7 linked regions of the Homo sapiens genome follow. The protein of the gene in region 2 interacts with the protein of the main gene of each other region in a pairwise test. Each region holds a gene or a part of one and is shown on either strand. Other genes may lie near its edges.

Region 1 (2,968 bases), on a different chromosome or scaffold from region 2:
GACCATGTCACCTGCTAGCCCCCGCCTGGCCGGCCCTTCTCCCCGCGCCCCCCGCCCCCCGCCCCTCCTAATTTCTCCCTCTCCCCTCCCTCCCCCGCCCCGCCCGTACCGCCGCCCTGGTCCAGCCGCTCCTGCGCGGTGCTGTCCTCGGGTCCTGGCGCGACGGTGGGGGCTGGGGGACCGGTGTCCACGGGCTCCCGGCCGGGGCTGGTGCTCTCCACGGGGCCTTCTCCCGACGGCAGCTCGGCCGGCTCGTTCCACAGCGTGGGCACGGGCTCCTGTGGAACATCGTCTGCAAAGCCAAGGAGAGGTGCTGGGGCCCCAGGTGACGGGGCCGACAGGGACGTCACCCCCCACCTCTAGGTTAAGCAAGTTGCCGGTAGCGCTGTGTGAGGGGTCTGGGCTCAGCGCTGCACTAGCCCTCACATTTCCCAGGCTAAGAAGCTGAAGCCAGTGCGTTGCTGCCTCCCATTGGGCAGGGCCGGTGGGTGGGCAGGAGGAGTGTCTGTTCAGTGTAAGGGAGGTGCCCCCCACAAAGCCCTTCTCTGCTTATAGGGTTGGGAGTTGGCAGGATTTGGGGTACCCAGGGACCAGAGAGCAGAAAGGAGACATTCTCAGTCCCACAGAAAGCACAGGCTGAGACGCCTGCATGATAACCCCCGCCCTGTATCCTCACCAGCCAGCCCACCCCAGTTGTCCTCCCCTGACCACCACTCCAACCCTGGGCCATCCATCCCCGGCAACCAGACAGGATGCCCCAGAAACGCTGGAAAGCTCAACATGGGGATGGTAGGTCGGCTCTTGGCCTCTCCAGCCCAGCCAGACCATCTGACATCACAGTGTTAGCAGGGCAGGCCTGCCCATGTCCTAATCTCTCTCTCTCTCTTTTTGAAACAGAGTCTTGCTCTGTGCCCAGGCTGGAGTGAAGTGGTACAATCTCGGCTCACTGCAGCCTCCGCCTCCCGGGTTCAAGCAAGCGATTCTCCTGCCTCAGCCTGCGGAGTAGCTGGGACTACAGGCACCTGCCACTACACCCAGCTAATTTTTGTATTTTTAGTTGAGACGGGGTTTGCCATGTTGGCCAGGCTGATTTTGAACTCCTGACCTCAGGTGATACACCCGTGTCGGCCTCCCAAAGTGCTGCGATTACAGGTGTGAGCCACTGCGGCCGGCCCCATGCTCTAATCTCAACTGGGATAGAGACTGTGATCCAGGGACACTCGACCCTCAAGCCGGTTCCCTGGATGAGCTTGGGGATGTCCCAACACCTCATCTCTTTGACTCCAGCTACTCTGTGGTGTGGGAACTGCTTTTATCCCCATTTCAGAGACAAGAAAGCCAAGGCTTGGGGATAAGGTGCCGTGGTGGTGAGCACAGGTGGGCTGAAGGCCTTGGACAGTTGCAGGAGCGGTTGTGCTGCCCAGAAACAGTGCAGGGAGGCTGCCGTTCTGTGAACAGACCCTGCCGGCCAGCCGGCGACCCTAGGGCACCTTTTGTCCCTGCGGGTTCCATCCCTGAGCGCTGGGGCAAGAGTCAAGCCAGACACTTGCCCTCCTCATAGGTTCACCAGCACCCAGAGAGGCGGATGCTCGAGAAGACACAGAGGTCCTTCCAGGGTTTTCTGGCCAGTTGTGTCCATCTAGGGCAAACCACGCAGAAACATCAGCCAACCCAGACTCAGGGTCAGTCTTAAAGTAAATGGGCCTTCCCAAATGTCAAAGTTAGGAAAAACAAAGAAAGGCCGAAAGGTTCCAGATCAGAGACTAAGGAGACAGCTCAATGTTCCTGGACGGGGAGGGACAGGCCTGTGATCGGAGACTCAGGTCCGTTGGTGAAGTTTGAACAGGGTGTGGCTTAGGACTGCCTCAGTGCTCACTTCCTGGTTTTGATAGCTGACTCTGGTGTGTTAAGAGAATGTCCTTGTTCTTAGGAAGAATTTAGGGGCAAAGGAACATGACTTCTGCAACTTACTCTCAAATGATTTCAGCATTCAGATAGAGGATTCAGCAATGTAGCAAAATGTTGGCAGTTGGCAAGACTAGGTGGATGGACTCCTGGAGTTCATTGGAGTATTTGTGCAACTTTTCTGTAAACTTCACATCTTTCCACAATAAAATGTTAGCAGGTCCCTGGCTTCTGGGCCTCTCTCAAGCCTGGAGAGGTCAGTTGCAAGGCTCAGCTCTGAGACAGCTTGCTGACCTTTCACCTGACCTGCCACATTCCCCAGGGCTGGCCCAAGGCAGAACCCCTTTCCAGAAAAGACCTCTGGCAGGAGGCCCCATGGGTGGAAGGCCCATTGGCCCCCAACTGGGGGAGGCTTCCCTCCCGAGGGGCCCAAGGCTGCACTGTAGCACTGATGTCTCTCTAGCCTCCCGCAAACCTTGAAGACCACCCTGAGAGGAGGGGAAGTGACCCAGCCAGGCCTCCCATGTCGCAGCCAGAAAGGCAGGGGTCTGCAGCCTTGCAGTCCCCATGGAAGGCCCCAGGCCCCTGGCGTGCTGCCTCAGGCTTCTGGGGGCTGGGCAGGTAAAAGGCCTGAGTGCGCCCACCGCCTGGCAGGCACCAGGGTCTAGGCTCACTGACTGCCTGAACATGTCCAAAGAAATGGACAAATGACACACCCAAGACAGACTGGCAGGTAGGCACCTCCCTGCATCTGGAGGCCGCGGCAGGGCTTCTGGGTACCAGGCCCAGCTGAGCCGGGTGGCATCTGCGGGAATCAGCCGAGGAGTGGCAGGCCTCCAGCCCCTGAGAAGGCAGGGCTCAGTACCCAGGCCAGCCCAGCAGGGGTGAGCTGCCACCCTTGACGGTACCCTCTGAGCAGGGCAGTGGGGAGCCCCACTCAGGCCCTGTCCCCATCTGTCCCCCGTGACCCAGCCTGTCTCTGCTGCGCCCACCACCAGACATACCTGCCCTGGCCTCCTCCCACTGTACACAGCCCCCTCCTGTCCAGCCAGGCCATGAAGCT
Region 2 (3,500 bases):
TTAGCCTGAAGCTGTTGGCAAGTCAGATACCACATGCCAAGTAACGTGCCACAGTAGTATTGCTTGGATCTTAGAAAATTATGGGATAATAATTACAGCAACTTTGCTCTAGGACCTTTGGAAGGAGTTCCCTCTGTTTCAAAGAAGTACAGCTAAAAATGGCTTTTCCTCCTCCTTACTCAGATATAGGAGGTATAGTAATGGTGAGGCTCTGGAGTCGGACTGCATGGGTTTGATTCCTAGTTTACTAGTTTACGCTTAGTAGCTCTGTGACCTACAGCTTTAATCATGCTGAGTCCCAGTTTCCTAATTTGTAAAATGCAATAATATCTGTATTACAGAATTGTTGTAAGGTTAAATAACATATGCAAAGTTCTTAGAGTAGTGGTTGGCACATAGAAAATGCTCAATAAAAATAAGTTTCGTTACAATTGAAAGATTAATAAAAAGAAAACAGACCTTTCACCTAAATATCAGGTGACTTCCCCTTTTCTCAAATTCCCAAGAAAAAAAATATAGTAGCATAAGATTTTATTTTTTTTTGAGATAGGATCTTGCTCTGTCTCCCAGGCTGGAGTGTAGTAGTGTAATCATGGTTCACAGCAGCCTGAAACTTCTGGGCTGAAGCAATCCTCCCGCCTCAGCCTCCCAAGTAGCTGGGACTACAGGTGTGCACCACCACATCCGGCTAATTTTTGTATTTTTTGTAGAGACAGGGTTTCACCATGTTGCCCAGGCTGGTATCCAACTCCTGAGCTCAAGCAATCTGCCTGCCTTCGCCTCCCAAAGTGCTGGGATTACAGGTGTAAGCCACTGTGCCTGGCCAGCATAGGATTTAAAATTTTAAAGTTGTTTCCTTGGCAAATGTCAATATATACTAACCTCCCGTGTAATAGCCATAAGCATAAAGAACTCGTCCAACAATCCAGGCCAAGCCCAGGCCAGAAGCTATACGCTAAGAAAAAAGGGCTACATTAGTATTTGCATGAAAGAAACAAGCAAACCTTTTTTAACACCTAGGGTTGATTACACAATATGTTAGCAAAAAGTTAACAATTTGATGATTTGGCCAACTACTCCCCACGCAAATTAGGTAGAATTAAGTTAGTTTCAGCGGGAAAATAAAATATCTGTGATTCTTCTATGAATGGCTTGGCTTGTGGACCTGGGAGATGAGTATTGGCCTTCTCCTAGACAGGTGGGATAGAAGGAATCCCCCCACTTGCCCTGGGCATCTTGGGGAACTTGTGTCAGAGCTCAAGAGAAGGACATGTGGGCCAGCCGGTCTCAGGGCAGGCCAGAAAAGAGAACTGCCCCAAAGTCAGGACTAGGGGAAATGCCGTTTTCTCAAATGGGCCTCTGAGCATGAGATTGACTGAAGACTCAGCTGCTGTTCTATGTGAAGTCAGTCACTGGCAGGGCTGGGCTCAGGTGGTTCTGCAGGCTACACTGGGGGTGTAGCTCCACTAGAAAGAAGGGGAGCGCTTCTCCCAGAATACATGGTCTTCGAGGGAAAAGTCTCCCTGTTCCCAATGTCCTTGAGAAGAGAGAATAAAAACTTAGATGAAAAATCCATCCCTTTGGCTGTCATGCTGGGGTGACTTCCTTGGTTAAAATAAGCAAGGAGAGAACACAGAAGACAGCATGTGAGAAGGCCGCCTTCCCCAGTGTCTTTCCCACTCAGCAGTGCTACTGTTAGGGATAAGGTTACTGCATCAGGGTTTTTGTTTGTTTGAGTTGATTTTGGGTAACATTAAATGTCAACAGGAGGGTGAAACAAATGAAAATAACACCAGTCCCTCAAGTCACGATATAGCAGCTCTAGTCTCTGCCAGGCCCTTCTTTACTATAATGTTGCCTAATGACTGGCAACCTAGGAACAATTGTTAGGTGCTTGTCCCCAAACTAGCTCTTATTTTTCAGAACTACCCATAAGGAATGGGATCCAGGGATGTGTGATAGGAATGGGGATGGAGTGGGGACACCAAATGAGGACTAATCTAGAGACCTGAGCTATTCAGATCAGCTAGTCTAGTCACTTGCTAGGAATGGGGATCTTTAGAGGCACCAGAAAGATACATTTTCTAAGAGATACAAGAGCAGTAGATGTTTCTTTGAAAAAAATGCAGGCCTTCAAGGTCATAAGCAGTAGATATGCCATTCTGGCAGCTTTTTAACAAAAGTACAAGGCATTCAGGATGAACCAGATGGTTAGGAAAGGCTTAGAACCAGAAGTCTGAAGGGCCACTCTGGTCAGAACTTGGTTTCAGGAGATAATCTGTCCTCAGAAAAGGGGAACACTTCTGTCTAAGACAAGACCCAAATGGCAATTAATTAGAGGCTGATAAACTTGCTTTATTTAGATATGTTTAAGTGCAGACTAAATCTCCATCCCACAGGGCTATCTATACTGCAGAGGCCTGCAAGTCCCCAGTGACCTGCCTCATCACCCCTCTGCCCTCTGTTGCTGCCCCTCTCCTGGCTCCATTGGCTTCTCACTGCTCACCAAACAAACCAGACAGGTGCCTGCCTCAGGCCTTGCTTGTCTTCTGGCTGGAGGTTGGGGAAACTCGTGCAGCACCTGCTCCCTCACCTCCTTTTATACTTGCTTAACTATCATCTCAGCAAAGCCCCCCTCCCTGACCACCCTATTCAAAATTATCCCACTCCACATCCCCTTTCCACCTTCCCCACTTTGTTTTCTTCTCTGCACTCACCACCTCCTAACACATGATGTAATTTACTTAGGTTGCTTCTTCTCTGTGACCACCCCACACCCCACAACAAAAAGGCAAGCTCTATGAAACCAGGGGTCTTTGTCTGCTTTGATCACTGCTTTACCCCAGGTGGTGAGTGAAAGTTTGTTGTGTGAATGAATTACTATAACAAATGAACTCTTATAGACATGAAACTTAGAACCAGACAGACCTGAGTTCAAATTCTAATCCTTCTACTCTGTAGCTATTTGACCTTGTGAAGTTTAAATAGTATATGAGAGGCTTTTCCTTATCTGTAAAATATGAGGAAAATCCCATCTCCTTTAAAGAACTCTGTAAGAAATAATTGAATAAAATCCTTTTAAATATGCAGTGCCTAGACACTGAAGATATTCATTAAATGTTTATTTCCTTCTTCTGTCCCTGATAATAGCTCAGTGAACTACTATCCAAATAGATGAACACCTCCTGGAAAACTTACCGGGTGGTAAACACCTCCAACAGCTAGAAAAAATAAGAAGGGAGGATACACTTCCAACCTGGAATTGACAGAAAGAAACTTTTAAAAAGTGCCCTTTTTAAGTATGCCTGTGTAGAATTATGAATTTTTTTTTTTTTTTTTTTGAGACGGAGTGTCTCTGTCACCCAGGCTGGAATGCAGTGGCATGATCTCAGCTCACTGCAACCTCCGCCTCCCGGGTTCAAGTAATTCTCATGCCTCAGCTTCCTGAGTAGCTGGGATTACAGGTGCGTGCCACCATGCCTGGCTAAGTTTTGTAGAGA
Region 3 (3,024 bases), on a different chromosome or scaffold from region 2:
CGAAAATCTACTAAACCTGAAATCTACTAAAAATACAAAAATTAGCTGGGTGTGGTGGCGGGCACCTGTAATCCCAGCTACTTGGGAGGCTGAAGCAGGAGAACTGCTTGAACCTGGGAGGTGGAGATTGCAGTGAGCCGAGATTTTGCCACTGCCCTCCAGCCTGAGTGACAAGAGTGAGACTCTGTCTCAAACAACAACAACAACAACAACAAATGCCTGAGACTGGGTAATTTATAAAGGAAAGAGGTTTATTTGATTCACAGTTCAGCATGGCTGGGGAGGCCTCAGGAAACTTACAATCATGGTGGAAGGTGAAGGGGAAGCAAGCCACTGTCTTCACAGAGTGGCAGGAAGAAGGCCAAGCGAAGGCAGGAAGAGCCCCTTAAAAAAACACCATATCTTGTGAAAACTCACTCACTATCACAAGAACAGCATGGGGGAAGCCGGCCCCATGATTCAATTACCTCCACCTGGTCTCTACCTAGACACGTGAGGATTATGGGGACACAATTCAAGGTGCGATTTGGGTAGGGACACAAACCCTAACCATATCACCGTTTCACAGAGGTCAAGTTTTCCTGGGCCTTCTACCTGGGCTGTGGTACCGTCACCTTATACCTGCTCGTAGATGAGGTGTTGCCAGGACCTGATGGTGTGGATGGAAGAGGCTAGCGTTTGGGGGGCTGGAGAACCCTAAACCAAAATCCTTATGTCCCCCAACACCCCCTAGGCCCCCCGATCCTGGTGATAAAGGCCACCAGGCTGGAGCCCCCACCCAAGCAGGGATGCCACTGAACTCATTAATCAGATGAGGATGTGGGTATGTCTGACTCTCTGCAAACCTTTCAGAATTGTGATTCTCTGCTGTTTGCCTGCCCTTGGCATATGCTCCAAACTGGGGCCCAGGATTCTGAGCTCCTGCCCGCCTCTTCCTCCCTCAGGACCTGGAGTTCAGGCCCCCAGCTCCTTCCTCCTTAAGCCCCAGGAGTTCTAACTCCCAAGTCCCCTCCTTCAGTAGAGACCCTAGACTTGGGGACTTCCTCTCCCAGAATGGAAGACTGCATAACCCACAGGAAAGCATGACACATCCCCAGCTGTCCCCTCCAGCCACATCTGCCCTCCCCCTTAATGTACACCCTAGCCTGATTGGCTTCCTCCCACCTCAGGGCCCCCAAGCCTCTCTCTCTCACCTCTTCCAGGAAGCCCCGACTTGGTGTTGAAGGTTCCATGGGTGGGAGTTGTAGAATCTGTGACAGAGGCAAGTACTAAACCACCGCCCAAACCACTGATGATCTGACACCCTCAGTGCCCTCCCCCATCACACACTAAGCGGGGAACTGGACCCCAGGGAGGGGAGGGAGGACGTTGCCTGTGCAATCCAGGAAGGGAGGGTATGTGAAAAGCTACCGGGAACTGTGTGAAACCAAACCAGCCTCATGTGACAAAGCGCAGGACCCCTCACTGCCCCAACTGCTTGCTGTTCTCTCTTTCTTGGGCTCTAAGGACCCAGGAGTCTGGGTGCACAGCCTCCTTCTCTCTGAGATTCAAGAGTCTGATCAGCAGCCTCTTCCTCCTCCAGGACCCAGAAGCCCTGAGCTTATCCCCATGGAGCTCTGCCGGTCCCTGGCCCTGCTGGGGGGCTCCCTGGGCCTGATGTTCTGCCTGATTGCTTTGAGCACCGATTTCTGGTTTGAGGCTGTGGGTCCCACCCACTCAGCTCACTCGGGCCTCTGGCCAACAGGGCATGGGGACATCATATCAGGTAAGGGGAATGGGTGTCCTACAGAGGGGTTGCCAGCGGGGATGGGTGCTCAGTGGTCTTCTCCCGATCAGGCTACATCCACGTGACGCAGACCTTCAGCATTATGGCTGTTCTGTGGGCCCTGGTGTCCGTGAGCTTCCTGGTCCTGTCCTGCTTCCCCTCACTGTTCCCCCCAGGCCACGGCCCGCTTGTCTCAACCACCGCAGCCTTTGCTGCAGGTAAGGACTCTGGACTGGACTGGGGCATCGCGAGCCAGCGAATTCCTGCCGAGGAGCTGAGCCATCTCTCTTGTCCTTGTCCCCAGCCATCTCCATGGTGGTGGCCATGGCGGTGTACACCAGCGAGCGGTGGGACCAGCCTCCACACCCCCAGATCCAGACCTTCTTCTCCTGGTCCTTCTACCTGGGCTGGGTCTCAGCTATCCTCTTGCTCTGTACAGGTGACTATCCTGCCCACTGCCCTGGGGAGCTTTGGGAGGGTCCAGTTGGGGTCCCTGAGGACAGAGGGCAGGGGCAAGTGCTTAAACTCTTTCTGGCTCCCCAGGTGCCCTGAGCCTGGGTGCTCACTGTGGCGGTCCCCGTCCTGGCTATGAAACCTTGTGAGCAGAAGGCAAGAGCGGCAAGATGAGTTTTGAGCGTTGTATTCCAAAGGCCTCATCTGGAGCCTCGGGAAAGTCTGGTCCCACATCTGCCCGCCCTTCCAGCCCTTCCCCAGCCCCTCCTCTTGTTTCTTCATTCATTCAACAAAATTTGGCTGGAATCTGGTTATTTTGAGATTAATTCTGCCAAGACATAAGCCAACTGTCTGCCAGCTCCATGGTAGGAGCTGGGCACCAAGGGAAGGTGAGGGCCCACCAGGCCGACCAGCCTGCAGGGCGCTCCTGCCCAGTACGAGTGCCCGGCCCGTGTGGACACAGGCTCCAACCCGTGTCTATGTCTCCCCTTCTCCAGCACTTTTCTTCCTCCCTGTGTCTTTCTCCCTTTAGCTGGCTCTCTTTCCTTCTCTCTCCCTCTCTGATTTTGTCCCCCTTGCCAGAACTCAGCCCTTCCTTGCACTCAGTCAGTTCTCTTTGCACATTTCCCCATGCTGGGGACACTGGCACGGGTCAGACCCAGGCCCTGCCCAGCAGGGGCTCAGTCTGTGGGGTGGTGGGGAGGAGGCACTTACAGACCAGAAGCAGTTAATACAGGCCAGACAGCAGTCCCAGTGCAGGGAGAATGCCGGAAAAAGACTGACCATATTGTGGAGGGATGGAGACG
Region 4 (3,500 bases), on a different chromosome or scaffold from region 2:
CAGGCCAATGCCGCGCCTTGCCCAGAGGGAGTCAGAGTGGGATTCAGGCCTCCTGCCTGCCAGCACAGGGGCTGAGGCCCCTCTGGTTCCCCAGGAGATCTCGGTCTGGCTCCAGAGAGTCTGAATGGTGAGTGGTATTGCACAGAAGCCACAGGCTGGGGCCCCAGCAGGCTGCACGCCCCAGCAGGGCGTGATGGAGTCAGGCCAGGATGGGATCACCTCCCCCACACACCTGCTGACAAAGGCCCATTCAAGACAGGACAGACAGCAGTCCCAGCAGCAGACACAGAAACCCAGAGCAGCTGCCAGGGCCAGGAACCCAGAAGCCAGGCCCACGCCACCCTGCCCACAGCCAGGCCACAGCACCAGGCAGCCCCCTTTGCTCTCTCTGCCTACCTCTTTAGAAGGACAGCTCTGGCCTGCATGTTTCAGCCTACAGGGCACTTTGCACAATTTCATATTGTCTCCCTTTTAGGGGTAGAAGTGGCATGAAGATGAACCCTGACCCACGGGCCTGGATACCCAGAAATGTGCCCTGCCTTTAGAGGAGGGGGCTGTTGACCTGACTCTGTCTCTGTTTCAGGAAACACATTATCCCCTCCCTCCCCTCAATGCATCCTCATACCCACAGAGCCAAGGCCTACACCCCTTCCCATGTAGGGCTGTCACCAGTGTATGCCCCCATCACACCATAGCTCCCTGGGAGCACAGGCACACTCTGGCCATCTCTGGATCCCTGGCACTGAGCACAGCAGCTGCTCAATAAATGTTGATGTGTGAATGAAAGGACGCTTCAGCATCATTATCCCTTTACATCAAATCCATTCTAAGCTCAGAACAACCAAAGGATCTGTAGGGAATTTTTCAGGCATTTAAAACTTTCTCGGTATCCTCCTTCCTCCATTGCCTCATTTCTAATCTCTGTGTCTCTGTCAAATCCCAACTACCAAAATGCTGTGAGGAATCAGCCTCTCTCCTTTGACTTCAGCTTTTAAGCATCTCTCAGACCTCAGATGGGGTCAAATTCTTAGTTTCTAGACTCTACCAAAGCAAGTGGGAGACTGAGGTGACGCACGGTAATAAAGGGATGTGCATCTTGGGAACGCGTGGTGTGCACCGGCGTATGGGAGACAGCCGGGAAGGGCGACTAGGTGTCTACACCTCCTGGTGATGAGGACTCTTCCCCATGCGTGTCACAGCACACACGCTGTTCACTGGGCTTTCTCCACGTGTCTGACACTGTGCCAGGCACCGTGGGGAGAACAGACCTGCCATTGAGAGGCGGTGCAGTGGAGCGGGCGGGGTGGGAGGCGGGGCGTGTCCCTCTGCAGCTAAAATGCAGGTGTGTGCTCTCAAGGAAGAACTGACAGGACATTCACGGTATATGAGTATGTTTATTGGGAATTTTAATGCCTGTTTATTGGGAATATGGAATAATTACTTGAAAGAATAAACACTTGGGAGGAGCCACGAAGGATGATATAACAATAATAATGCCATTCTAATAATCCTAATAATGTGTCATTACTATCATTATTACAGCAGCTGATATCTCCTGAGTGTTTACTCCATGCTAGGCAGCATGCTGAGCCCTTTACACAGCTCGCCTCATACTGTCCTCACACTCATTTGACAGGTAAGGAAACTGAGGTTTAGCAAAGTGAAGAAATCCAGGAAGCATCAGAATGCAGTTTAGAATCCAAGTTTGTGTGTCTACAAAGACTGCCACCCTCTACTCGGCACATTCCAGCAACGGCTTGAGCTCAGGCAGAGGGTGAGACAGTACCAGGCTTCGGATGACCATCTGGAGAAGGTGCCTGCAGAGGTGGCTGCAGCCAGGTCACGCTGAGCCTGGAGTGCCTACACCATGTACCTGTGCTTATTAATAGGCACTGGTGAGCCTGGGGAGGTTTTTGAGCAGAGGAGTGGCAAACCTGGACCTGAGCTGTAACATCAGTGGGTAAAATGGAATGGGCTGAGAGGGTGGACGTTCACAGGCCATCACCATGGTCTGAGAGACTGCAGCTCTTCGGGAGAGGTGACAGGGCGTGTGAGAATGTGTGAGCCACTGCCTCCCTGTCGGGTGTGGGAGATTATATATGTGTGAGGAAGGGAACGTGTGTGAGAGTGTAAGTGCACCCGTGATTGCATGGAGGGGCTCTTCCTATGGAGGAAGAAAGTCGCAGGGCCTCCTGGTAGGATGTGGACATGAGGTGGACAGTAGGGGAGAGGAAGGAACAGGACAAGCCCATTGATCTACCTGAGCAGGAGGGCTCCAGCAAAGGAGAAACCTCAGAAGCCCACAGGGCCTGCCTGACATATGAGGGGAACATTTATTAAAAGGATGAACGAGGGAGTTTGAAACCTTAGCCTCTGGTCTCTCAGTGTGGGCCTGGCTTTGTCCTCCAGCTGCGTGGGGGTCACTGTTATTCTAACTACACCCCTTCATCCTTGGCCCTCTCTGCCCACATCAGATATTCTGAGCTGGGGCAGCCCCATTCCCATGGCCCCAGCCTGGTCCGTGGGGGCCCAGCCCCTTTCCCAGGCTGTGTGCTCCCTCCCACATCTTTGTAACAAACATGTTCCTGCGCAGCCTACAAGCTGGCTTCATCCCTTCCCAGGTCGGGACCTCTCCCTCCCCGGATTCTGGAGCAGAGATGATGCTGCCAAATTGGTTCCATGCTTTTGTTTCGGCCGGAGATGTCCTGCCTCTCATCAGGGACGGTGTCAGAGCACTGTGTTCCCGACCGGCCCCTCTCGTTGCAACTCTCCAGCTGGCCAGGGGTTCTCCCTGCAGAAGATTTCATGGACCTCCAAAATGACAGCCCAGTCCTCTCCAGTTGTCTCTTCCAGAGAACAACTCTTTAAAGAACCCCCCCCAACCGCCGCCCGCCTCCAGTGTGCAGCCTGGTAGAAAAGGCCAGGTAGACCACAGCATCCAGGAGGAGGTGGCTCCCTCAGCCCTAAAGAAAAAAACTTGGTTTCAGCTTCTAGGGCACCTTCTGCCACACTGGGTGAAAAGGAAACTTTCTCCAGGGTAACCAGAGCCCAGCCCCTTCCTGCTCAGCTCAGCTCAGCTGCAGCCCTGTATTATGAAATAATGAGTACTATTTGGTACCTGGAGAGAAAAGGGATCTCTTTCAAGATTGTATAATCCACACAAATTTAGAGGAAGACATGCCTTGGAAATCATGAGTCTAAACCCCACTATTGACAGATGCGGAAACAAAGGTCTAAAATCCGAAAGGCTTTCAGTTGCTGAAGAGCAGTCCAAGCCATTTCTGGATTTCACCAGAAGCCCAGTTTGCATCCAAAGGGATATTTGTGCAATGAACGCATTTGCCTTTCGGTAGCACGGAAGCTCAGGGGGAGAGCTGGGGCTAGAACCCGGCCTTTCCACAGCAGGCTCCCTGCCTCCTTGGGGCTGTGCCTTTCTTGACTGGTTTGCTTCCCTTAGGGTGCTCAGAAGGTGATTTGTTCGAAGGTGAATATTGGGGGGC
Region 5 (3,500 bases), on a different chromosome or scaffold from region 2:
AAAATGATGTATATACAAGATTGTTCTCTGTAGCTTTGTTCATAATAACATAGATTGAAAACAACCTAAATTATCAGTAATGAAGGTAAAGGATTGGTTAATTAAGTACATCCATACAATAGAATACTATGCAGCTATAAAAATGAATGAGGAAGCTCTTTAGGTACTGATATGGAAAGATCCTGAAAATATACTGGTGAGCTGAAAAACTGAAAGTTCAGAACAGCTCTATGCATTTGTATAAATAAGGGGAAAATATGTATTATACACATACATATATACATATGTTGTATATATGAAGAAATGTATATTGTACTTAGATATTTTAAAAAATTTCTGGAAGGATGTAAGAATTTAACATTGGTTCTCTGAGGAGGGAGGAAAGAGTGGTTGGGAGAAAAGAGTAAGCCTTTTCAGTCTATACTCTTTTACACTTTTTGAATTTTGACCCATATGACTATTCTACCTATTCAAAATAGAACTAAGTAAATTTGTAAAAAATAAAAAAATTCAGTCAGGTAGTACTTTTTGAACAGAGGAGCAGCAAGGAGGTCGTATCAGAATCTTTGTGGACTCATTTTTAAACTGCGTCTTTAAAACAGGTTTCTGAGAGTGTGTTCCATGCCTCAAGAATACAGGAAGAGTTGAGAACCCTAGCAGATGACTTACGAATTATCAAATTTCCTGACTATACAAATTATCCACCAGTCTTATTTTAGCAAGAAGCAGGTAAAAAGTACATGCAATGGACTGTTTGTAAATCTTGTGAAGCTCAGTAACAGACTGAAAAAACTGTTAAAGTACAGACTCAGAAGAATTATTAATAGAAAGTGTGGTAAATTATATCTCCTGATAGTTCCCTCCTCCCATCTCCCACCTGTTAAAGAGCTAATGGGCTCTGTGTTCATTTCTCCAGAAGAGGGATGTGGCAAAGCAGAAAGAAGAAATAGCCTGTTTTTCTACTTTACATTGCACAATATTTACAGAAACCAGTGTACAGATATAATCAGGGATAGGAGTGTGGATAAACACAATATGTCTTGAATGCACAGCAAAGACAATGAGTTGATTGGAGTACAGATAAAATGTTTGTGTGGAACAGGGAGAGAGTGAGGGGCTTATCGACAAGTGAGAAAGATTTCCTTAGTTTAAATAAAGTAGGTTGTATGCATGTTTGCACTTATGTGTGTAAATGGGGAAAGGGAGTAGTGCTACTGGGGCTTCCTGACAAAAGCATCTAGAAAAGCCCATGCAAAACCACACAGGGAGTATAGCTGTGTACAGTATCTTGGTAGGTAAGTACAGAGCCAAGCCTGCAGATGCCTCTGCCCTAAGCCTGGCATAGAAACACCACATGGTCATGTGGCTGGAAGTTGCCACATCTGAAACACCATCCTGACCACAATAAAAGATACTTCAATACTCACTATAGCAAATGTCTTGAGGATTAGTCTGCACCTTCACCCCAATATCCTGGCACAGTATCCACCTCTAGCACCTCAACCCAACCTGGAATTGGGTGAACAGAACCTTAGAATAACCTTCCTACCAATCTATCAGGATAGAGGGTAAAAAAAAAAAATTATAAGATTTAGTCTACAACTACAACTTAGGGGTTGCTATACTGCCAAATAGCTGTTATTTGCTATTATTTAGATGACTATGTCTAAAGAGGGGAGAAAATAATTGACAAGTTTACTCAAAGTTTAACATACTTCTCCAGAACAAAGATGATAGTTAAGAAAAATAAAGTGTTTGGGGACTGCTATAGAACGATGAAACTTCTAGATAAGTGAGGAAAGACACAAAGTAACATAAAAATAATCAAATGTGAGGCTTTCTAAAGCCTGTTGAACTTTTTCACTTGAGTGCTTTAATAGGGTACCTGTCAAATTTAATACAAGAATATTCTTGAGTTTTTCCAAAATTACTATTCCACAATCTAAGTACTTACTTCGCATTGAGCATTTTTATTATTTTATGTTCATTTTAAACTAATCAGAAGCTGCATCATGGGTAAGTCAGGTCACAATGATAGGGGTAAAAAAAGTACATTGCAATATTGTGGTCTAGAAGTGTTTATGATTCGGGAAATTACCTAATTCATTTGCAAATAAGCAGAAAAGCCACAGAAAATGGTAACTCCCCAACAACTAAATTTTTTACAAGTCAGTACCTGCAGAATCCTCATGCTAAAATTTTGATGTTTTATAAGCCCTTAGAAAGAATTAACAACTTTAAAAAGAATATAAAAATGAAAGCATATTAAATGAAATTCTTCCTTCCTCAGTTTGCCAATTTCATTCCTAAAAGTGATCAGCTAAGAGTCTGGTGTGCATCTTTCCAAAAATTATATACATATCTAGGTAATACAGGTACATATATAAAGCTAGTTATATATAAAACGTATATATATCTTCTCAGCTTATTTTCCACAAGTGAGATTCTCACCAGAAAAATGGTTCTGCATTTTGCTTTTTTCACATATTCTGGAGACCTTTCCTATCAGCACCCACAGCCACAGTTCTGTTGTGTGTGTGTTTTTTTTTAATTCTAGCTTTTCTCTATTACAAACAATGCTCCAAGGAACATTCTTGTATTTAAGGGTACAGTTGTACAAGGACATAGATGTTACAAATTTCCAGAATAACTGCTACCAAAGGTTGCAGGCTTTTAAATAAATACACACATCCTTCGTTCTTCTCTACAGCTCAATATTCATCAGTTGATGAAATGATGTGTGTGCATATATGTGTGTACACACACACACACACACACACACACAGACAAAGTCTGGCTCTGCCACCCAGGCAACCTCCACCTCCCAGGTTCAAGCAATTCTCTGGCACAGCCTCCCAAGTAGCTGGGATTACAGGCGCCTGCCACCACACCCAGCTAATTCTTGTATTTTTAGTAGACACAGGGTTTCACCATCTTGACTAGGCTGGTCTTGAACTCCTGACTTCATGTTCCACCCGCCTCAGCCTCCCAAAGTTCTGGGATTACAGGCGTGAGCAACTGTGCCCAGCCAAAGTGATGTATATTAATTTTTTTTTTTTTTTTTGAGAAGGAATCTTGCTGTGTTGCCAGGCTGAGTGCAGTGGCGCAATCTCGGCTCACTGCAACCTCCGCCTCCCAGGTTCAAGCAGTTCTCCTGCCTCAGCCTCCAGAGTAGCTGGACTACAGGTGTGCACCACCACATTCAGCTAATTTCTGTACTTTTAGTAGAGACGAGGTTTCACCATGTTGGCCAGGCTGGTCTTGATCTCTTGACCTCATGATCCGCCTGCCTGGGGCTCTCAAAGTTCTGGGATTTCAGTCAGACGCCACCACGTCTGGCCAATGAAATGATGTATACTAATCTTTTCCATCAATTGAAACCTCTTAAGACTGTTTTCATCCAAAGCAAAAACAGGGATGGGTAGGAATTTCCTATCCCAATCCCTTTGCTGGAATATTATAGACACCTATCTAAGGGTATATTTGTTTTGGCTTATTTT
Region 6 (3,500 bases), on a different chromosome or scaffold from region 2:
TCTCCCTCTCTCTCCCAGGATGGAGTACAGTGGTGTGATCACAGCTCACTGCAGCCTCAAAATCCTGGGCTCTACTGATTCCCCCACCTCAGCCTCCTGAGTAGCTGGGACTAGGGGCACAAATCAGTTCAGGATACTATGCAGTAACCCAGACCATGATGTTGGTGGGAGCAAGGGAGCAAGAATAAAACAAAGTTATAAATAAGCAGAAATTCTGACTAAGCATAAGATAGAAGACAGAAAAGAGAGAATAGACCAGACACAGTGGCTCATGCCTGTAATCCCAGCACTCTGGGGGGGGCCGAGGCACACAGATCATTTATGGTCAGAAGTTTGAGACAAGCCTGACCAACATGGTGAAATCCCCTCTCACTAAAAATTCAAAAAAAAAAAAACCACTAGCTGGGCATGGTGTCGCACGCCTGTAATCTCAGCCACCCAGGAGGCTGAGGCAGGAGAATCGCTTGAACTCAGGAGGCGGAGGTTACAGTGAGCTAAGATTGCACACTGCATTCCAACCTGGGCAACAGAGCCCAGGCTGAGACTCCATCTCAAAAAATAAAATAAAAATAAATAAATAAATAAATACAAATAAGAGAGAATTGAGGTCTAGACAGAGTGTTAAGAGTTAGGCTCCTTCTCGTCATGGCCTGGATGGCTGTTTTTTTTGTATGTTCTTTCAGCTTTCACTCATACTGTCTACTCAATGTTTCTTAAAATTTCATTTTTTTTTTAATAGAGATGGGCTTGCTATGTTGCCCAGGCAAGTCTCAAACTCCTCAAGTGATCCTCCTGCCTCACCTCCCAAACTGCTGGGATTGCGGGAGTGAGCCACCACACTTGGCCTCATTCAGCCTTTGCTTTTTTTTTTTTTTTTGAGACGGAGTCTCACTCTGTTGCCCAGGCTGGAGTGCAATGGCGTGATCTCAGCTCATTGCAACCTCCGCCTCCCGGGTTCAAGCAATTCTCCTGCCTCAGCCTCCCAAGTAGCTGGGACTACAGGCATGCGCCATGACACTCAGCTAATTTTTTTTTTTTTTGTATTTTTAGTAGAGACCGAGTTTCACCATGTTGGTCAGGCTGGTCTTGAACTCCTGACCACAGGTGATCCACCCACCTCAGCCTCCCAAAGTGCTGGGATTACAGGCGTGAGCCACAGCGCCCCGCAAGCCTTTGCTTTTTACTTCTCCTACTAAAACATTTTGATCAGGGCTTTAATTCGTCTTATCTACTAAGCTGTCCCCGTCTACCACACCCAGAACCACTCTGAGAATTCTTCCAAGACTTTCCATAATTAACCCTACTGAAGGCTGAACTCTTTGTGAGATCAGTTATGCCTCAAGACTACCAATTCAAATGTAAATGAATACCTGATAATAGATTGGGGTTATTATTTCATGCTTACTCAGTTAAAGTCATGCTTGTATATTTCACATTCTTGCAGACACAGAAATACAACTGAAAATATCTTACCAAGTTAGAGAATGCTGATCTAGCTTGATCCATCATTCTGAACTGCCACACAGAAGAACCTAGGTATCAGAATAGAGAATTATTGAGAAAGATACTACTGTATCAGATTAGTGAGCTTTCTATTACCAGGCTAAATGATACATTAAATTTTTAAAATACATTATCACTTTTCTAGAAAAGGTATTTAACCATAGTTTACATGACAACTAAATTAAGTGGGATCCTTTTTAAAGTTTGTTATATACATAATTCTTTTTTTTTCTTTTTGTAGAGACAAGGTCACCCTATGTTGCCCAGGCTGGTCTTGAACTCCTGGCCTCAAACAATCCTCCCACCTTGGCCTCCCAAAGTGCTGCAATTATAAGTACGAACCACTATGTTCTGAGTAGACAAAAGTGACACATACTGCTGGGCGGGGTGGCTCACACCTGTAATCCTAGCACTTTGGGAGGCTGAGATGGGTGGATCACCTGAGGTCAGGAGTTCAAGACCAGCCTGGCCAACATGGAGAAACCCTGTCTCTACTAAAAATACAAAAATTAGCCGGACGTGGTGGTGGGCGCCTGTAATCCCAGCCACTCGGGAGCCTGAGGCAGGAGAATGGCGTGAACCCAGGAGGTGGAGCTTGCAGTGAGCCAAGATCGCGCCACTGCACTCCAGCCTGGAAAACAAGAGCAAAACTCTGTCTCAAAAAAAAAAGAAAGTGACACATACAAAAAGACAAAATTAAGACTAAGGCAGACAAGACCAGTTATGCTACAAATACCACAAACCATCTCCAATGGGAAGGGGAAGAAATACTGATCCTGACTGAATGAATAGTTCCTACAAGTGATTCGATCTTTGACACAAGAAGAAACATGAAACACAGATTACGCTGTTTTACAGATGAAGAGGCCAGTTATTAGAGAAACTAAGTGGCCTGTTCAAGGCTGAAAATTGATAATCTAAGCGAAGTTAAATGGGTTACTGGGTTATAGAAATTGTGTTATCATCTCTGGAAATTTAAGACATTAACCTTAACTTTTGTCAAAGCAAAATACATCTCTGTAATCAAAGTCCTAAGTTAAGTTAAAGGCCTTAACTGAAATCTGAATTTTCCAGTTAATTTGGTTTGAGGGCATCTAGATACTTGAAAATGACATTATCCTGAGATTTGCAAAATGGACATTTATTGGATACCATTTTAAAGCTTTTCCTATATACGAGTACACTTAGGGCATATTAAACACACACGGCACAAAGCAAGCTGTGAGGTATACGCAAATTGTAAAGCAAAGGGTATTATAACTGGCATTAAGAAAAAGCTTTCTGGCCAGGCACGGTGGCTCATGCCTGTAATCCCAACACTTTGGGAGGCCGAGGCAGGTGGATCACGAGGTCAGGAGTTTGAGACCAGCCTGGCCAAGGTGGTGAAACCCCATCTCTACTAAAAATACAAAAATTAGATGGGCGTGGTGGTGGGCACCTGTAATCCCAGCTACTGGGGAGGCTGAGGCAGGAGAATCGCTTGAACCCGGGAGGTGGAGGTTGCAGTGAGCCGAGATGGCACCACTGCACTCCAGCCTGGGTGACGGAGTGAAACTCCATCTCAAAAAAATAATAAAAAAGAAAAAGAAAAAGCTCTAAAACCTATTACAAAAAATTCTTTTTAAATTCAAGCTTTAAAAACCAGTGTCCATATGCAATAGACCATATTCTTAGAAGCATAATCTTTTTTTTTTTCTTGAGACAGAGTTTCGGTCTTGTTGCCTAGGCTGGAGTGCAATGGCAGGATCTCGGCTCACTGCAACCTCCCCCTCCCGGGTTCAAGCCATTTTCCCACCTCAGACTCCGAGTAGCTGGGATTACAGGTGCCCACCACCATGCCCAGCTAATTTTTGTATTTTTAGTAGAGACGGGATTTTACCACGTTGGCCAGGCTGGTCTGGAACTTCTGACCTAGGGTGATCCACCCACCTGGCCTCCCAAAGTGCTAAGATTAGTTACTTGATAAGAACATCCCAAGGAAATCGAAGGCGTGAGCC
Region 7 (3,500 bases), on a different chromosome or scaffold from region 2:
GGAGGTCAAGGCTATAGTGAGCTGTGATCACACCACTGCACTCCAGCCTGGGCGAAAGAGCAAGACCTTGTCTCAAAGAAAAAAAATAAAAGGGAACAGGCTTCTGAATTGAGTGTAGGCCAGTAAAATACTCCCTGGCCTCAAGTGTCCCATTAAATAGTTAACAGGGAGACCACTAGTTGTCTCATAACTGACAACTTGGGACAACTGAGGAATGAATGTCCAAAAGAGAAAAGGCCTCTCTGATTGTGTGGGAGCCAGGGCAGTTTCCCATTCATTTCCTTATTCAGTCCTTTCTGGGCAGCATCCCATTTTACAGCGAATACAACTGGCATAGAGAAGCAAAGCAACCCACTCCCAAACTATGCAGTATAAGGGCTGGGGTTGAAATTTGAAGGCAGGTCTTGGTGTTGTTAACTTTGCTCCATGGATGTAACCCCTAGTTCCTATTTTTGGTTTCTCATGGTCTGGTCGGGGAGGGAGAAAGAGGAATCAGCAGGTTATTAACTATTAACTATTTCCCCAGGCTCCTTCACCACCCAACATTCTACAAGAAAATCCACAAGAAACACCATGAGTGGACAGCTCCCATTGGCGTGATCTCTCTCTATGCCCACCCTATAGAGCATGCAGTGAGTAGAGCTCTATGCTCCCCAGAGCAAAGGGCAGATGGCCCCAACCACCTTCCTGAAGGTCTCCTGCAGAGAACTTAGACCACACCGGCCCTTTTTCTTCCCATTTAAAAATAGCTACCATTTATTGTCAGCCTTCCATATGCCAGGCTATGTTAAGTGCTAACACAGTTGTCTCATTTAATCATCCCAACAACTTTCTTTTTTTCTTTTTGAGACAGGGTCTTGCTCTGTCACCCAGGTTGGAGTGCAGTGGTGTGATCATAGCTCACTGCAGCCTCCAACCCCTGGGCTCATGTGATCCTCTAGCTTCAGTCTTCCAAATAGCTGAGACCACACGTGTGCACTTCCAAATAGCTGAGACCACACGTGTGCACCACCAAATCTGGAGTCTCACTGTGTCATCTTGGCTGGAGTGCAATGGCATGATCTCGGCTCACTGCAATCTCCCGCCTCCCGGGTTCAAGCCATTCTCCTGTCTCAGCCTCCTGAGTAGCTGGGATTACAGGCGTGTGCCACCACGCCTGGCTGATTTTTGTATTTTTAGTAGGACAGGTTTTCACCATGTTGGTCAGGCTGGTCTCAAACTCCTGACCTCGTGATCTACCCGCCTTGGCCTCCCAAAGTGTTGGGATTATAGGAGTGAGCCATCGCACCTGGCCACATCTGGCTAATTTTTAAATTTTTTTGTAGAGTCGGGATCCTGCTATTTTGCCCAGACTGGCTGGAACCCCTGGCCTCAAGCAATCCTCCCACCTCTGTCTCCCAAATTGCTGGGATTACAGGCATGAATCACCACACCTGGCTCCTCCAACAACCTTTTTAATCTTAATTTTGCTAACAAGAAAGTTGAGGCTCAAACTGCGTAATTTGTCCCAAGTTACAAAGGTGAATGCCTTCAACAAATCAAAGTCCCGAAACTCTCACCTTCTCCAGATCTGGGTCAAGGAAGTTTGCCTCTGGTACCACCTTGGGACTAAGTGTATACCCAACTAAGTCCCTTCATCTCCCTGGACCCTGCCTTCAATCATCCCTCCTCTTGCAGGTCTCCAACATGCTACCGGTGATAGTGGGCCCATTAGTAATGGGCTCCCACTTGTCCTCCATCACCATGTGGTTTTCCTTGGCCCTCATCATCACCACCATCTCCCACTGTGGCTACCACCTTCCCTTCCTGCCTTCGCCTGAATTCCACGACTACCACCATCTCAAGTAAGGACCTTCTCCCCACAATGGGTCCCTAGGCAACAACCATCACCCTCCCTCCTTAAGCTTCTGATAGCAGGCACTGGTATCTCAGTTTACATGTGAGTGCTAGTTGGGGAAGAGGTCTGATGGCTGGGAAAATAACCACACTGGGATGACCTTACTCTTTTCCTTCTGAAATTGGGTCCTCCTCCAACTGGGGGTTTTAAACCTTTATTTGGACTCTGGGCCCTTTGAATAAGCTCTGGACATTCTCTTTAGAAAAGTACATATATGCATAAAACTCCTGCAGGCAATCACAAGGAAGTCATGTATCTCTGAAAGCCCCAGACTTTTTCAAGTGTAGTCTACAAACCTCCTATACCAGAATCACCTGAGATGCTTGTTTAAAATATAGGCTCTTGAATTCCACTCCAAATATGCTGAACTAAGGTATCTGGGGGAGCAGGGCCTGGAAACCTGCATTTTAGTTAAGTGTTCCAGGGGATTCTGATGCTGGTGATCTCATACCTGAAGAAGCCTAGTTCTGCTAGAGATTCTCAGACTGTGGGCATCAATCACACAGCAAGCTTTTCAAAGGAGGACTCCAGATACGGCAAATTGCAGGTTTGGAGTGGCCCCCGGGAGATGCATTGGTAGCAACTCCCCAGCTTATTCTGATGCAGATGGTCAGGATGGTGGTGACAGGTGTGGGGTAGGAGGGCTGAGAAATGTGTGAGGCTGGCACAAATGAAATGGGATCTGCACGGAAGCCTCCAGCATGGGCACTGCAGTGCCGTCCTCTCTCTTCTAGGTTCAACCAGTGCTATGGGGTGCTGGGTGTGCTGGACCACCTCCATGGGACTGACACCATGTTCAAGCAGACCAAGGCCTACGAGAGACATGTCCTCCTGCTGGGCTTCACCCCGCTCTCTGAGAGCATCCCAGACTCCCCAAAGAGGATGGAGTGAGAGACAGCCTAAGTGTCATCCTGGCTGTCCCTCAGCCATGGGATGCAGACACGGCTTCCTGATTGCACCTAACAATTTGCCTCCTTCGGCCACACGCCCTAATGATGGCACCACCAGGGTAGAGGGAAGGTCGGCTTCCCGGAAAAGCAGGGCCAAGGATGAGGCTTTCTTCAAACTACTGCCCTTGATGTCCCTCAATGGGATCAGGAGTTAGCTTAAGAAAAAGGAAAACACAGCTCCCCAGACTGGAGGCTGGTCAGAGGGAGGAGACCCCTGGTCCTCTGCTGTGGAAGGAGAGGGGTTCAGCCCCAGATAACTCCTTTGTGGCCTGGGCAGGATGCAGAGAATGACAAGGCTGAAAGGAGGGGGACTGGAGGCTGCCTGGCTCCAGCGAGAGCTCCTTCTGGGACCAGAGGGTGGGACGGCCAGGTATCACTTTGCCCCTTCCTGCCCCAAAAGGCTTTCACATACCCGACTCAGGCCAGAGCCAAGACACCCTGGCAAATCATTATAGGTCTCAATTCATGACATACCAGATGCCAGTCGCCACTTCACCCAACACACACACAAACATACACACACCAAACACTCTGAGTGAGTGGTAAAGGCCCCGTTTTAACTCTGGCCCACCGCAAACAAAAGGTTTCCCTCTGTGGGGGAGAAAAAGAAATCCAGGAGCTCCTCCCTGGATTAAAACCAACGAGGTGCAGAC

The links.
Region 1: the proteins of MGST3 (region 2) and SNORC interact in binary tests that used the Homo sapiens proteins (3 or more experiments, as listed by UniProt).
Region 3: the proteins of MGST3 (region 2) and NKG7 interact in binary tests that used the Homo sapiens proteins (3 or more experiments, as listed by UniProt).
Region 4: the proteins of MGST3 (region 2) and FXYD6 interact in binary tests that used the Homo sapiens proteins (3 or more experiments, as listed by UniProt).
Region 5: the proteins of MGST3 (region 2) and ARL6IP6 interact in binary tests that used the Homo sapiens proteins (3 or more experiments, as listed by UniProt).
Region 6: the proteins of MGST3 (region 2) and TFRC interact in binary tests that used the Homo sapiens proteins (3 or more experiments, as listed by UniProt).
Region 7: the proteins of MGST3 (region 2) and FAXDC2 interact in binary tests that used the Homo sapiens proteins (3 or more experiments, as listed by UniProt).

The regions. Positions count from the first base shown.
Region 1 is NC_000002.12:232,873,264-232,876,231, reverse strand, and holds part of SNORC (protein SNORC isoform c precursor), read right to left. Parts: intron 778-2,968; exon of another isoform or gene 735-777; coding exon of another isoform or gene 677-734; intron 639-676; exon of another isoform or gene 427-638; intron 401-426; exon of another isoform or gene 293-400; coding exon 110-292; intron 1-109. UniProt on the Homo sapiens protein: Plays a role in the regulation of chondrocyte maturation and postnatal endochondral ossification. May inhibit cell growth stimulation induced by FGF2.
Region 2 is NC_000001.11:165,651,734-165,655,233, reverse strand, and holds part of MGST3 (glutathione S-transferase 3, mitochondrial), read right to left. Parts: intron 3,257-3,500; coding exon 3,199-3,256; intron 956-3,198; coding exon 883-955; intron 1-882. UniProt on the Homo sapiens protein: Displays both glutathione S-transferase and glutathione peroxidase activities toward oxyeicosanoids, as part of cellular detoxification as well as synthesis of bioactive metabolites.
Region 3 is NC_000019.10:51,371,120-51,374,143, reverse strand, and holds NKG7 (protein NKG7), read left to right. Parts: upstream 1-1,489; 5' UTR 1,490-1,608; coding exon 1,609-1,765; exon of another isoform or gene 1,766-1,836; coding exon 1,837-1,983; coding exon of another isoform or gene 1,984-2,069; coding exon 2,070-2,204; intron 2,205-2,308; coding exon 2,309-2,367; 3' UTR 2,368-2,524; downstream 2,525-3,024.
Region 4 is NC_000011.10:117,870,159-117,873,658, forward strand, and holds part of FXYD6 (FXYD domain-containing ion transport regulator 6 precursor), read right to left. Parts: intron 1-3,500. UniProt on the Homo sapiens protein: Associates with and regulates the activity of the sodium/potassium-transporting ATPase (NKA) which catalyzes the hydrolysis of ATP coupled with the exchange of Na(+) and K(+) ions across the plasma membrane.
Region 5 is NC_000002.12:152,728,620-152,732,119, reverse strand, and holds part of ARL6IP6 (ADP-ribosylation factor-like protein 6-interacting protein 6), read right to left. Parts: intron 1-3,500.
Region 6 is NC_000003.12:196,075,591-196,079,090, forward strand, and holds part of TFRC (transferrin receptor protein 1), read right to left. Parts: intron 1,533-3,500; 5' UTR 1,510-1,532; coding exon 1,474-1,509; intron 1-1,473. UniProt on the Homo sapiens protein: Cellular uptake of iron occurs via receptor-mediated endocytosis of ligand-occupied transferrin receptor into specialized endosomes. Endosomal acidification leads to iron release.
Region 7 is NC_000005.10:154,819,604-154,823,103, reverse strand, and holds part of FAXDC2 (fatty acid hydroxylase domain-containing protein 2), read left to right. Parts: intron 1-526; coding exon 527-632; intron 633-1,677; coding exon 1,678-1,844; intron 1,845-2,631; coding exon 2,632-2,788; 3' UTR 2,789-3,500. UniProt on the Homo sapiens protein: Promotes megakaryocyte differentiation by enhancing ERK phosphorylation and up-regulating RUNX1 expression.